2 separate regions of the Homo sapiens genome follow, and region 1 is linked to region 2. The links come from fine-mapping of genetic effects on gene expression. Tissue or cell type: whole blood. Region 2 holds a variant in brackets; the other region holds the start of a gene. All regions are shown on one strand. Distances are from middle to middle.

The links. PIP is the estimated chance that this variant, and not a neighbour inherited with it, causes the effect.
Region 1: it holds the start of NUP58, and the variant in region 2 is fine-mapped to the expression of NUP58 in whole blood (TOPMed, PIP above 0.99).

The regions. Positions count from the first base shown.
Region 1 is chr13:25,297,510-25,305,642 of GRCh38, reverse strand. It overlaps NUP58 (nucleoporin 58), which reads right to left and starts at 4,018. Exons shown (of 16, transcript NM_014089.4): 1 at 3,763-4,018. The coding sequence starts at 3,869. RefSeq lists enhancers at 3,723-3,772, 3,883-3,962, 4,123-4,362.
Region 2 is chr13:25,337,490-25,345,610 of GRCh38, reverse strand. It overlaps NUP58 (nucleoporin 58), which reads right to left. Exons shown (of 16, transcript NM_014089.4): 15 at 6,880-6,975; 16 at 3,190-5,646. The coding sequence ends at 5,477. Among named protein-coding and RNA genes, the nearest start is that of ATP8A2, 30 kb to the left of the region's middle. RefSeq lists an enhancer at 6,000-6,169. The variant A/G (reference allele first, on the strand shown) is at 3,690.

The DNA.
Region 1 (8,133 bases), 40 kb after region 2:
GAGGTGGAGGAGCTTATTAAGGGTAGAACTTGAGATGTGCCATCCATACTGAGTAGGTAAAAGGAGAAGTACTGATTTTTAAAATGTGTTTGTGTGCACCTTGGGCATATGAAGGCGAGGCAGGAGACAAAGCAGGGCGGTAAGCTCTCGCTAACAATTAAAACACAGATCTTGACCAGGCCGGGTGGCTCACACCTGTAATCCCAGCACTTTGGGAGGTTGAGGTAGGCAGACTGCTTGAGCCCAGAAGCTTGAGCCCAGCCTGGGCCACATGGTGAAACTCTCTCTACCGAAAAAACAACAACAAAAAACTTCCAAAAAACAAAAATTAGCCAGGCGTGCCAATGCACACCTGAATGTAATCCCAGCTACTCAGGAAGCTGAGGTGGAAAGATCACTTTAGCCCAGGAGGTGGAGGTTGTAGCGGGCTGAGATTGCGCCACTGCATTCCAGCCTGGGAGACAGGGCAAGGCCCTGTCTCAAAAAAAAAAAAAAAAAAAAAAAAAAAAAAACCCCACAGATCTTTAAACATTTAGTCTTAATTTAAAAGGTATTTTTAACAACATATTGCTACAATCAAAACTAAGTGAGATCACACACACAGAAACCTAAGTGAGCGCTACAAGCAAAAGAATATAGTATGTAATGGCTATATCCAGACAACATAGGTAGTACAACCATAAAAGGGGCATATATGCCAAAACATTTAGCTTAGCTGGTAGTAGTCTGATCGTATTGTTATTTTGACACTGTTGTGTGTATAATGTGGAGTAGGGTAAATGAGTATTTGGGGGATACTAAAACATTACTGCCGGCTGGGTGTGGTGGCTCACGCCTGTAATCCCAGCACCTTGGGATGCCAAGGTGGATGGATCACCTGAAGTCAGGAGTTTGAGACCAGCCTGGCCAACATGGTGAAACCCCATCTCTACTAAAAATACCAAAAATAAAAATAAAAAATTTAGCCGGGTGTGGTGGCGTGCCTGTAATCCCAGCTATTTGGGAGGCTGAGGCAGGAGAATTGCTTGAACCCGTAAGGTGGAGGTTGCAATGAGCCAAGATCACGCCATTGCACTCCAGGCTGGGTAACAAGAGTGAGACTGTCTTAAAAAAAAAAAAAAATACATATATATATATATATATATATATATATATATATATATAATCTTGACAACATAACTGAAGACATTATGAAGTATTACATAATGAAAGTTGAAAATACTGCCAAAGAAACACATCAAAATGAAATTTTTCTCTACCACAAAAGCAAGAGAGAAATTTTGGTGGCAGTGAAATTTACTAAATTCAAGAAAAGCAAAAGCTACCCTAAACTTGACCAATTATTGCCTCAAACCAATGTTATCTGCCAAGGACTTGATAGGATGTACTGTAGAAAAGCCAACTTGACTCAATCACATCTGGAATGTTATTTTAACTTGCCCAGCTTGCCCTAATGCAGACTTGGTAGCTAACATAATAGCTAAGATTTACTGAGCACTTAGCAAGTGCCAGACTTGATGCTAAATATTTAAATACTTCATCTCACTCATCAACTCAGGTAATATATTATACTCCTTTTCCAGATGTGAGAACTCCCCTAAAATGACCAACCTCAAGACATCAAATCACTAGGTGGCACTAGGGGCTGTCAGGCCTCCCAACCAGCACTCTAACAAATTTATGTCGGACAGTCTCCTCTTTCATTAATTTATCCAAGCCTCTCTAAAACTTGGGTAATTTTTTATAGCTTATTACTAATAACTCATTTGCTCAGTCATTCAAATTGTTATTAAAGCCCTTTTTCTATGCCAGGCACTGTCCTTGGGACTGACAATGAGGTGGGAAATTAAGACTCAGACCTTGCCCTCAGGCAGTTTCTAGTCAGTGAGAGACATAGGTATTAATTATTCTAGTGCTGAGATCTGACAACAAACAAGTTAACAATAAATATAACAAACTGATTACAATTGTGATCAGCACTCTAAGAGTACTAGGAGAATGGAAATCTCCCCTAGACTGACAGGTCAGAAAAGGCCTCTCTGGGGAAGAGACCATTTGATATTTGCAAGGAAGGGGCTGGCAAAGCCCACTTGAAAAGAGAAAAGGCCATGTTGCTAGGACAGGCTTTCTAAGATCAGGACCATGAGAGAAATATAAAAATTAATTCATCAAGTCATAAGCAACATTAAAAAAAAAAAGAAATAGAAAATATCAAAGTGCATCCCATGAAGTAAGGGTATCTTTCTCTGAAACTTCATTTCAGTTATTTAGGGTGGTAGTTGTGTGTTTGTTTTTAACAGTGGGTCTGCATAGCTAAAATAAAAAGATGGGCTCAAGATGAGTCCCGCTCAAGATGAGTCCCCAGAGGTTCCAGCAGAAGTGGACCTTGCAGACTATGGTAAGTTTTTTTTTCTTTTTTAAACTTCATTCTAACGATGGCGGGTAATGATTAAAGAGAGAGCAATGGGAATTTTGTTTTTCAATTACTCTGGCTAAAATGTGGCAGAACAGATTGAAGAAGTTGATTGGAGTAGTTTTCATCTAAAACAAGAAAGACAGCTGGTTAAAAATCTGACAAGAATCAAAATTATTTTCATAAGAATGTAAGGATCAAGAGAGCAAGACTCTTAATACCTAAAACAGAGCCTTGCACATGGGAATCTGTCCAATAAATATTTGTTCCACGAATGACAATAGCCTAAGCAGGGTTGTGGAACTGGAAATAAAGACAAACAGAAATGGCAGAAGTAACATTATCAGAACCTGTTGTTGAGCGAGTAGAGTAAGAATAACGGAGGTATGGATGAAAATTCAAATTTCTGAATTGACTGTGTAGTCCGTGGTTCCTCCTCCCTCCCTTTTTAAACTGCAGGTCATGCTTAAGTATTTGCCTTTTAAATCTACAGCCACATCTTTTAAGCTTCAGGAAGTATCTTGTTGACAGTGTGCACACTCCTTAACTTTATGAACCCCTCCACCTTTATCTTAAAAAAAATTGAGTTCTAAAGCTTAAATCTCTCATTAAAATGTCTCACCACTTTGTTTCTTTCTGGATAGTTATGTTTTTGTCGCCACCTGAACTAATGGGTTGCACAAAAACAAGGAACATGCTACCTACGTTTTGTAATTTAAGTAAAAGACAAATTGAGTTATTACAACACAACATTCTCGCATCAGATATACTAATCTGCACATACTGCAGAAAATTACCACTAATAAACACTGTAAAAAAGTGTTTTTGTTTTTTTTAACAAAAACAGATAAGGTCCCATGTGGCACAAAAGCTTGAAAAGCTGGTTAAAAACCACAAAGTTATTAAAACACCGTCATATCCAAAACCGCAAATGCTGCAATGAAATCGGAATTATCTATCATAAAACTCCACAGTATGCTATAATTTCATTCATTCATTCAATGTTCATTCTATGCCTAAGACTGACACATCGCTAAAGCTCCGGGGTAGACCCCAAGGCCCTTCCACGCAGTCAAGACCCCACTAGGTCCAAATAATGCCTGAACTATACGTGGATTCTGGAAACCTCACAGCACAGAACCCATCCCGCCCTCCACTTCACCAGGCCGCGCTGGGCCCGGGTACCGCGGCGAGAGGCCTACGACGCCGGGCGGCTAGATTAAGTGCTTCTCTCCAGCCCCACTGGGAAGGAAGCCAGAGGGAAGAGACAGGATGGGGACACCAAGGGAGCTTTGCGGGGGTGGGGGTGGGGGTGAATCCGGCCCAGGAAGGCGAGAAAGTGCGGTTACCTAGACGCTCCCGTTCCGAAGGAGAAAACGCCGCCTGTGCTGGTCCCGCCGGCGGCCACGGTGGTGGAGCCCAGAGTCCCGGACCCGAAGGAGAACCCTGTGGACATGTCTGGCCAGGGCTCGACGCCGTCAGCAAGGCGAAATGGGTCTGGGACACTTCTCTCGCCTCAAAGCCGAGGCGGGCCGGGCAGCATCTCTCTCGCCCGGCACGGACCTGGCGGGAACTTCCAGCCCCAACGGCGGCGAAGGCAAGGCTGAGGGGGTGGAGCAACCACGCAAAAGTACGCCCGGCGCTCGCCGCGCGCACGTAGCCCGCCGGAAGTGTAACCGTCACGCAATGAGCCCTGGTACGTGAGTGGGGGACGGCGAGCCGCGCAAGGTACGCTGGGACCAGGCGAGAATAGGCGTACTGCCTAATCTCTTAAAGGAGTAGGCTCCCAGAGTTTAAAAACAGTAAAACCATTTCTGTCATTTTTTAGTTCTTCTATCGTAGCATCTGTACTGACATAATCCGCACTTTAGGGTGATGAATGTCAATTGCTACTTCTATCTAGCCTCCTGCCAAAATTGATGCTCAGAATCGCAGAATCGGGGAGGTCCCTCCTGAGCATCTCTAAGCTCCCCACTCAGAAAAGGAGGCGGCTTCGGGCTTTCGTTGGCTGCCGCCCCATCCCTAAGAAGGAAGGGGAGCGTGTCTGCTTCCTGAAGGTTCGGAAATCAATCGAAAATAATCCATGCAACCGTCCCACGACGTGAGCCCCACCCCTGCGCCCCAGGCCTCGCGGAGCCAGTTGGTCGCAGTTGTTGCGAGCCCGACGCCCAGCCCCGAAGGGGGCCCAGAAGAGCGTCCCAGGCGTCCGTGGGGTGGCCGGCTGTGGTCCTGGCGCCCAGAAGTGGCCAGGCCCGCTGGATTTCCTGGGATGCGGTCAAGTCCACAAATACTGTCCGTGCATCCTGATGCTGGAGGGCGGGACCTTGGGCCGAGCGAGTGTGGCTCCGCCAGAAGGGCCCTCGGACACAACCGGTGCTGGAGGAACTACAAAGTGGAAGGATTAGGAAACGCACAGGAACATGTACGAAAGAAGGCGAAATGTGAGGTGTAACTTACATTTCTAGGATAACTCAAGAAAAATTCGCGTTTAAAGAGAACCTCTCTGGCGAAGCATCAGGAAAGGCTTCCTGGTGGTGGTGCATTCGAGGGTTGTCATCATAGTGTTAGTTTTTATTTTTCCCTCAGGGATTGTTACATTACTCCCCCAAATGGTTTTCCTACTCGTGATCTCTAACAAAATCCATCCCATAAGCAACCCCCGGATTTATGATCTAAAAAGCCCAGTGGCTCTTTAGTTTGGCACTTGATGACCTCCGTATGATTAGTCTTTCTAACCTCATCTCACAGTTCTCCCTAATTCAGTACTTTAATCTTCCGTTGAGCTTGGGCATTGCCACCAGCTGTGGACTGAACTATTTCCCTCCTCCCCCAATCCATATGTTAAAGCCCTACCCCACCCCAATATGTTGGTATTTGGAGATGGAGCCTTTGGGAGGTAATTCAATTTAGATGAGGTCACCTTGGTGGGTCGCCCATGGCGAGATTAGTGCCCTTATGAGAAAAAACAACGAAGAGCTTGTTCTCCTCTGTGTGCCATGTGAGGACAGAGCAAGAAGGGGCTTTCACCTGGAACCCAAACTGCCCCATCTTTATCTGGGACTTAGCCTCCAGAATTGAGAGAAGTAAATGTCTGTTGTTATAGCCACCTCAGTCTATGGTATTTTGTTGTATCAGCCAAGCAGACTAATACACCACCTCTGTGTTTGTATAATTAAAAAGAAACGTACATTTTATTTTGTTTTTTAAATTTAATTTATATTTTACTTTATTTTGAGACAGAGTCTCGCTCTGTTGCCCAGGCTGGAATACAGTGGTGCCATCTCGGCTCACTGCAACCTCCGTCTCCTGAGTTCAAGCGATTCTCCTGCCTCAGCCTCCCAAGTAACTGGGATCACAGGCGCACGCCACCACGCCCGGTTAATTTCTGTATTTTTCAGTAGAGATGGGTTTTCACCATGTTGGCCAGGCTGGTCTTGAACTCCTGGCCTCAAGCGATCTGCCCACCTCGGCCTCCCAAAGTGCTGGGATTACAGGCGTAAGCCACTGTGCCCGGCCATAACATTTTAAACGTCATAGAAGTCATAATGGGAATGATAAAAAAGAAAAAAGGGATATATTTGGATTAAGATATAAATAAAAACTTCATAGTTATCGAACAGGAGGCAAAAATAAAAGATTGTTGTGAGTTTTAAAGCTTCGGTGATATAGAGAAAGCTATTTTCAGTGATGGCTATAGGGTGGTCAGTAAGAGGATTGTTCACATAAAGTCTAGGAGACTTCCTTTTGACTGAAAAAAAAAAAGATCCTGATGATTTTTATGGGAAGATAGAAAGGCACTCCCTATGTCTTTTGATTTTCTCGTGTATTCTTTCCAAAACTATTGAAGAATACCAACCTACAATTAGTAATAGCAAAATGGCTGGCACTTAAATATATAATAATGAACAAGACTTGTAATATTCACAGGAAAGAAAGAACATGTAAAAATATCATAGGGACTAATTTCCTAATAGGGGAAACTGGGTGTGAGGAATATGAGCACACTATGTAATAATTCTGTAAATCTGTAACTTTTTTTTTTTTTGGATGGAGTCTCACTCTGACACCAGGCTGGAGTGCACTGGCTAGATCCTGGCTCACTGCAACCTCCGACTCCCTGGTTCAAGCGAGTCTCCTGCCTCAGCCTCCTAAGTAGCTGAGATGACAGGCATGCGCCACCATGCCCAGCTAATTTTTGTATTTTTAGTAGAGCTGGAGTTTCACCATGTTGGCCAGGATGATCTCAATCTCCTGACCTTGTGATCTGCCTGCCTCGGCCTCCCAAAGTACTGGGATTACAGGCGTAAGCCACCGCGCCCAGCCACATCTATAACTGTTTTGAAGCTGAACGTTTATAAAAGAAATAAAGGAAGTCTGACTTAGATTAAAGTTTGGGTTTTGGGGGAAGCCATTCCAATTAACAAGCAAACTATCCTTTCAACTTTATCAAAATTTTAGTGTAGCATTTCTTGCCTTGTATCTGGCAGAATATTTTAAGTTATACTACATAATAAATCCCCAAATCACTCAAGGAGGAGCACTGCAGAGACAAAATCTGGAATATCTGATGAGCAGTATTGCAATCTACCACTAGATGCACTAAGTATAAGACTAAATCTTGGAGACCCCTTCTCATCTCATATACCTTGTGCCGCTTGTCCTATTAGTGAAGAAAGAAATTACATCCTTACATTCTACAGAAATGAAACTCCAAAGAAAGCAGCTTTCAATAAGCTCAATGGTTTGGTTAGTGAATGGAAAACAGTAAAATAGCAGTAACTGAGCATTACGCATACATAAGTCTGAATCCTATCTGCAACTGAGCAGAACCATGGAGCACTGGAATCTGGCTTAACCTTCCTGACCTAGTCTAGGTAGAGTAACAAATCCTATCCCAAAGGATCTTCTAAATATTACGCTTTTTAACATTAGAGGACTTGAACCTATGTGTCAGTTCTATGTGAATTGCTGCTTCCAGGGATGAAGCAAGTGCTTCAGATTCTAAATTCTAGAGTAGGCCATCTTGTCTTTCCTTGCTTCTTATATTGTAAGCATTCTGTTAGAGAACTGCATCTTTTGCTGATTTGCCAGCAGGATGATGACATTGTTAATGTCATAATCAAACTGAATTATCCAAACAGAAATAGCACTGTAAAAAATTTACTTTTTTTTTTTCTTCCTTTTTGAGACAGGGTCTGGCTCTGTGCCCAGGCTGGAGTGCAGTGGCACCATCTTGGCTCACTGCAACCTCTGCCTGTCTGGCTCAAGCGATCCTCCCACCTCAGCCACCCGAGTAGCTCGGACTACATAAAGGTGTCCACCACCATGCCCGGCTAATTTGTTTATTTGTAAAGATGGGTTTTCACCGTGTTGCCCAGGCTAAAACTTCTAATTTGTGTTTGCATTAACATATCTAAAATAGGTTTGCTTTGGTGGGGGTGTTCAGATCAGGATAACCATTTGAGAACCTCTCTCAGCAGCGGTTCTAAGACAGAAAAGAAGTGGGAATCTGAAGTCTATTGAAAGGAGTCTGTAATATCTCCAGTTCTGGTCCTCTGAAATATCCAGAAAAGAGGTTATCTTTTAGAAATTACATGTAACCATTTGCCTTCAATCACAGTCTTTATCTTGAAAATTATTCTCAGAAAAGGTCTTAAATATTTTAGGGTTTTAAATATTTGAGTAGTGTCCTTCCACTTTAAAAATTCATTAAGTTCTCA
Region 2 (8,121 bases):
TTTCCAAGGTGGACAGACCCCCCCCCACCGCCCCCATCATCCAGTTGCTGGGATGATGCTTTTCTCCATAAACCTCTTCATAGGGAACCAGCAAGAAAAGGTCAAAGATGGACTGCACAAGTCCGGCTCTTGCTTCTTTATAACGCTCTTTACACCACAGATAGTATTCCCTCTCCTTTTAAATCACATAGACCTAGGTACTTACCTTACTTTGCCCTGATCTATCACATACTTGTAGTTTCCCCCATATGAACTGTGTAATCACATTACCTTCAGTGCCTTTCAGTTAGTCATGAAAATCAGCACGCTATTCCTTGATCAGAGACAGGCAGTAAAATATTGTGCTTTGGAATTAAACAGGTCTGGGTTTAAAACCCAGCCCTATGACTTAGCTATGCGACCTCAAGTAAGTTGCTTAACCTTAGCCTCAGTTCCTTCATCTATAAATTGGGTATTTCTGCTTTACACAGTAATATTCAGACTAAACATGGTCAAGTATATAAAATGCTGAGTGGTACCCAGGACAGACTATGCACCCAATAAATGGGGATGTGATGTAAGAGGCAAAGAGGACTTTGTGCATGAGATTTAAGTTAGGTATGCCAACTCAAGACTTCCCAGGACACTGGCTCATGTTAGCAAGGCCCAGAATCCTGTGACTGAATAAGCCTGTCTTGGTGTGTGCTTCAAAAAGTGTGGCAAAGTCAGCCTTATTCACAGAAAAGGTAGGACATTAACTCGGATTTACTATATTATCATCAGAAAGGACAGGAAATAACTGGTTGTAATAATGTAAATGACCTCATACCTACTACAGGATAAAAATTTGCACTCAATTCAAATCAAGATGGTTAGTAAAAATAATCAAACAAGAATCTAATAAAAACTTTGTTAAAAGAACAAAAGACCCAACAGATGCATGTATCATGCTGTGCTTATTGTTGTCAATTTCCCCCAGGACGTATTTTGTGTAAATCCAATAAAAATCTCAGAATTTTTAAAGAAAAATCAAACTCAATAAAATAGACACTAAAGTTCATCTTAAAGACTAAGTGTCCTAGAATAGCCTCCCCACACAAAAACAAACAAAAAGGCTAAGATAAAGCAGCTTCCTATCAGGTATACAAATAAAGCATCCGGCTACAATGATTAAGGCAGTGGGGTATTGGTGCAGGAAGACCTAATGCTTCTCAGGTGTCAGGGGTTACACTATCCAAATGCTTTAGATTATATTATTAGTATAACCACCCATGTATATCATCCTTATTTTCTAGAGGATAAAGCTGAAGTCTAGAAGTTACATAACTTGCTTAAAATCACACATGGTCAAGGCGGGATTCTGAACACAGCTGACTAGACATATCTCTCAGGAAAAATATTAATACCTATTATCTACAGAGGTCCTACAAATCATTAAGAAAAAACCCTAATTTGGTATAAAAATTGCCAAAGGATATAATAAGCAATTACATTAACATACAAATAGCTGATACATATTAAAAAGGTTGACCTCACAAAGACTTATAATTAGGATTACAATTAACTGGGATCACAAAGAATACTAGGAAATGGATATACATGCTGGTAGGAGTATATATTTGTATAGCATTTTGGGAAGGCAATGTGACATTAAAACACACAATTTATATGACTTTTCAGCAATTTATTTCCAGAATCAACCCCGAAGAAACTGAAATAGTCAAATGAACCTAACCATCCAGAGAATAGTTGGTGTGGGGTGTGTGTGTGTATGTATGTGTGTGTGTGCGTATATATATATGTGTATATATATATATATATATATACATATATATGTGGAATACTACACAGCCACTAAAAAGGAATGGATGAATTGGCTGGGCATGGTAGCTCACGCCTATAATCTCAGCACTTTGGGAGGCCGAGGCGGGCAGATTACCTGAGGTCAGGAGTTTGAGACCAGGCTGGCCAACATGGTAAAATACATCTCTACTTAAATCTCTACTAAAAATACAAAAATTAGCCAGGCGTAATCATGCCTGCAATCCCAGCTACTCCAGAGGCTGAGGGAGAACTGCTTGAACCCAGGAGGCAGAGGCTGCAGTGAGCCGAGATGGCATCAGCCTGGGCGACAAGAGTGAAACTCCATCTCAAAAAAAAAAAAAGGAATGAATTAATGGCATTTGCAGCCTGGATGGGATTGGGAGACTATTACTCTGAGAAGAAACTGCACATGTATACATATGTAACTACCCTGCACATTGTGCACATGTACCCTAAAACTTAAAGTATAATAATAATAAATTTAAATAAATAAATAAAAATTTAAAAAAAGAGAAGAAACTCAGGAATGGAAAACCAAACATCCTATGTTCTCTAAGTGGGAGCTAAGCTATGAGGATACAAAGGCATTAAGAATGATACAATGGACTATGGGAACTTAAGAGGGGAAGGGGTGGGAAGAGGGTGAGGGATAAAAGGCTACAAACTGGGTCAGCGCCTACTGCTCAGGTGATGGGTGTACCAAAATCTCACAAATCACCACTAAAGAACTTACTCATGCAACCAAATACCACCTGTTCACCAATAATCTATGGAAATAAAAAAAATTTTAAAAAATTACATTTCCTAAAAAAACCACACAGTAGTTGAAACAGATCATTGTACACCCATTCTATGGGACAGTATGTAAAAAGTAAATCTATATAGACACAGAAAGATGCTGATGATATACTAATAGAAGGGAAAAAGAACAAGTCCAGAACACAAACTTTTTAACCTATTTGTTAAAAAAGTAAAGAGGGATCCAAGAGAATAAAATGTGATAAAAAATCAGAGAGAATATAAAAGAAAAAGAAAAGAGAAGTAACATTTATATATTCTTTTAAGACATATTTAAAAGGGTCTACAAGGATACATATCAAACCATCAGACTGCACACTAGGAAATGGAAGGGAATTAGGGCCCAAAAGTTCAAAGGGATTTTTCCTTTTTTACTCAATATTATTCTTTATAACTAAAAATGTTCACTGTTTTTGTCATTTTGAGAAGACAAAAGCAAGTGAGAAATAATTTACTATCTTATGTTCACTCTTCTGTTTAAAAAAGAGCAAGATGTATAAACCAATGAAGGGAATATACTAAAACCCAACCGGAGACTAAAAGAGCAATAATAAAATTACATATTAAGAACAGCTACTGACACCTATAAAGAATCAAAGCAACTGACACAATAAATTTTATTGTTTCCATAATAATAGGCTCTGGACAAAGACAATGGAGACAATGACAACACATTTAAACTCCTATAACAAATTAATCTGTTACAAATTTCCAGTGGCTCAACATATTAAAATGCAAAACATATAAAGAAAAAAACAAGAAATATAAATATTCAGATTTTTGCAGTACAATGAAATGTCTTTTAAAAAAAGTTTGTTGTAATTGTGTATGTAATTCTGACAGTAATTCAAAACACAAAATCACACATTTTCCCTAACTTCCCATGTTCTGGATCTGGGGACTGCAATATTACAGAAATATGCAAAAATAAGTTTAGTGCTCAGAGATAAATAATTTTCCTTATTTCAATGCATCAATGCGCAAAAATTTCAATTCAAAAAAGCCAACCACTGCTATATGCAGATAAATAAAACATTTGACAACACTTTTATAATCAAACCCAACATTATACAAAAAATGTGTGGCAC[A/G]TGCACATACGTGTGCATATGTGTATGCAATGCCTATTTTAGAAAAAAGGTGTCTTGATGAAAATGATTTTGAAAATAGTCACTGACACACATTATATACAAAACCTTTTATATAAAAAATTAAACTATTTTCAATGAAATTCCATGTTCACATCCTATCTGAAAATTGCAATTGAATCATAAATAGGTCTACTAACGAAATCATGGCTAAGGCAGTTCTCTTTCCAAGGGTTTTCTTTTATATCCACCTGATGTCACTAATACTAATGTAGTCAAATATACAGATGCAACCTGACATGCCTATGCGTTATTACCTGGAGCTCTGTTCACTGTTATAATGGGAGAATTTACAGTTGCTACAAAGAATATTTTTCTTTTTTAAAATATACTGGTTTCTCTATTCCAAATTAAGCACTTACTTAAGACATTAAGAGGCTGAGAAGCCACTCCATTTGGTGTCAATATCAATAGCCCTATAAGAAAGAACTCTGTATTGGAATAGCTAGAAAAGTTCTCACTAAAGTGAGAACTTTAGTGCATCCTTCACCTGCATAGAATCAGTTTGGCTAATAGCTCTTTGCCCCAGAACACCAGTCTGGAGTTCAAATAGGCTCCTGAAAGTTCATCTCAGATAAGAAAAAAACATCTCACAGAAGCAATGTAAGGACACACAGGATAATAAAATGGTTAAAATCTGTTTGATGAGTCTTACTTACAGCATTCCTCATTTGGAGGAGCTGCTATAGGTTAAGGTGGAAACAAAAATGGAAAAGATCAGGGGCAATAAAGTTGAGTTGGCCAAGTATTTACGCCAGTAACCATTTCAATAAGTCTTTAAGCAAACAACTGCAATGACCTGGTACCTCTAAGCTCATCATTCTACAAGCACTGAGGATATGAAGCTTAAAAGGTGAAAACTTGAATACCCTTAGAAAAGGGGAACAGTCTGAGGCAAAAGTTGTAGGCCTGTAAATATATATTTTATTTTATTTTCATCTTTTTTGAGACGGAGTTTTGCTCTTGTTGCCCAGGCTGGAGTGCAGTGGTGTGATCTCGGCTCACTGCAACCCCCACCTCCCGGCTTCAAGTGATTCTCGTGCCTCAGCCTCCCGAGTAGCTGGGATTATAGGTACCCGCCACTATGCCCAGCTAATTTTTGTATTTTTCGTAGAGATGGGGTTTCACCATGTCAGGCTGGTCTCAAACTCCTGACCTCAGGTGATCCGCCTGCCTCGGCCTCCCAAAGTGCTGGGATTACAGGCGTGAGCCACCACGCCTGGCGTAAATATGTATTTTATATGCACACACAACTGTGTGTATTATTCTGTATATATTTACATACATATTCACAAGATGCCCTGCAGTATAATTCAAAAGGCCTTTAACAAGGAACAAATTGATTCTAGTATAGGCCCTAGAGTTCACACCACCTGTATAAGAAACAAATGTGCATGTATTCACATAATGTAAACCTCATCAACAAAAACACTAGGTTAAATAGTAAGTTTTAGGTTAATGGTTTCTAACCATTACCAATCAGTGATGTAATCAGAACATTTCTTACACTGAGAATCAAATTAAAAAGAAAACACAGCTGGACTTTAAATTCCACAAGAAAAAAGATGTTCAGTATGGCAAACATGAAGAAAGTTCAAATTCCAGAGTAGGGAAAAATATCAAAACTTTATAAATCTCCTGGGATGCAATTTAATTACTGCATCATTAGAAAAATAGACTCATAGAATGAACGGTGCTGCTATGGATTCTCTCAACACATCAACCCATGTTTATCTTTTTCCTCTTTTGTTTCCAGCTGGAGGTTTCTTCAACTGAAGGAGTTGTCCTCCTGTTCCAAAACCTGCAGAGGCAGGATTGGACACCCCAAAAGTCAAACCAGCTGATGCCGTGATGCCAGGATTGCTGAAGTTAAACCCAGATGTACTTGAGCTGCCAAAGCCTTATGTTTAGGGAAAAAAATATTCATATCAGAAGTTGAATTCCAAAAACAAATATAAAAACAGGGAGGAGCAGTAAATTTCTATCTAAAAGAATACATAATCTGTAAGAATAGCAAATATATTAAAGCCCTAAATTTCTAACATGAAATTTTAACAGGAAAATAATATAGCTAACAACTAAGTGGCACCCTGAAAGAGAGTGTAGTGATGCAGGTCAAAAGAGAAACCTTAGCACAAATTACTAAAATCTATATAAACTTCAAGTTGCCAGAAACTTTCCTGTTAATTAAATATGTCAAGGTGCCTTCCTCCTTAGACCCACCAAAAACATTTTATCAACATGTAGAAGAGAGACATTCACATATCTGGACCTACCCTTGCAATCCCAAGTCCTCCAGGAAAGCTTCAACCCACAATGTTCAAGACAATGAACAAACAAAAGAGCAGTACTTACTGTTTTGATTTTATAAGAGCTTTTGCAAAATTAAGATCTAGTACTACTACTGCCTAGTTAACTAATACAATATTTCAATTATAATCCTGATAACATGGAATCCTATTATTATCTTCCTCCACTGGAACTGCTGATTTTAAACGCTACTTAATTCCTTCAAATTCTCTAAATTTAAACACATCTTTCACAGTATTATGTCATTACATTAGATATGGTATTTGTCCCTAAGCACTGCACATTAAAACAAGCCATATTTACCAATATAAATGCAAAAGTAGATGAAATTTGGAATTTTTCATAAGAAGAGTCAAAAAATTATACCTATTTCAAAAATGAACAAGAAACTAAATTAATAATCATTTGTAAGACTGTGGTATTCTTAAAACCAGAGGGACCCTGGAATAGAAATCATTCTCCAGGATGAATTATGACAAAAAACTTAAACTTTCACAATGATGGGTTCCTTTTTGTAATAATGAAGAAAATTATTTAACCATGAAGTTAGTCACTAGAGTTCAAATGAATCTCTGAGTTAGAAGATGTAATTAATTATTAAATCAAACTAAGAAGTCTTGTTAGAAGTATTTTACAAACCTGCCCTTTAGTTTATGAGAGAGATAAAGTAAAATGATTAGTTAGGCTTGCACACTTCATCCAGGGAGTAAAAACTGAATCAGGGAGGGAACTTTTTGGGTTACTGGAAATAACAACACATACTTTTAAATTAAATAATTTACACCTTTAAATTTGCCTGAAATCCAGGCAGAAACACACAAACCTGCACTAAGACTTCCTGAGGGTTTATTTGTTGTTCCAAATCCAAATGTGGAGGCCCCTGTGGTGCTGCATCCAAAACCAGAGCTAGTTCCAAATCCTAGTGGAAGGGTAATAGAAAAATATACAATGGCACATAAAACACAGGTTAAAGGATATGGACAAGTACAACCGAAAATCATCAGAGGTCTAACAGATACAGTGCTGAAAAACATGGCCTTATTAAGGAAATCTGCTTACTCCTTTGCATGAGACTTTTAGAAGAACTAGACTAATTCTGAAATAAAACGTTTATATCTATTTAGACTAAGTTTGTGACCCATCAATTTTTAAAGAACAAGGCCATAAAAAAGAAATTAGTATTTTCTCTTCTAAATGTGCTAGAAAATTTTACCCACCATTCAAGTATGATTTTAGTCAGTTATAACCATTTCCACTTTAGGGGTATTTCATTTCACAAAAAAAGGACTAAATACATTAATAAGCATGACATGCACTACAATGTAAACACTAAATACTACAAGGTTATTTTACTCTGCTCTTTCCCAAAACATTTTTAATTAAGAATCTGAAACGCTGAAAAACTCTGCATAACTACATAATCAAGCACTTTAAATCTACTCAGTAACAGTAGATTCCTGCCATACTACCAGCCAGTTTAACAGTGAAAAATTGGTGGTGAGAAGATCATGGTTTTTCTCTTAACAATACTATCTTCATCATTTAAAAAAAGAAGTATTTTTCATCACACAAAGTTCATGACATTCTAAGTACTTGAAGACTAGTTTCCACTCTCCTAAGAGACAGGTGCTCTACAAATAAAGTTCAAATTCTTTTTTGGTTATTTTGCAATAGCTTATCTAAAATACTGAGTGTGACAGTATCATTGCCTGTAACAATAAGAAATGTGATGGCAAATTAATTATAGATTATAGGAATTATGCTATCTGCCAGATTCTAATAATTCCTAATTTAGAACAGAGTCTATATTAAACAACCGTAATAGCTTATAGGTCTCCCGTCTTATATTTTAGTGGAAATAAGGGCAACTTATTCATTACATTATAATGTGCCTGTGAAAATACAACCAACTTTCAGTTATCCATATCAAAGAATTGTGAATGCATTTGTATTTAGCATGATGTTTTTGCAGAGGACTTACCTTACTAACCTTATGAAAGTATTAAAATAAGCTTAATTGCTTATGTAAACAAGCATGTATATAGGCAAATTTGCCAAATGTGCT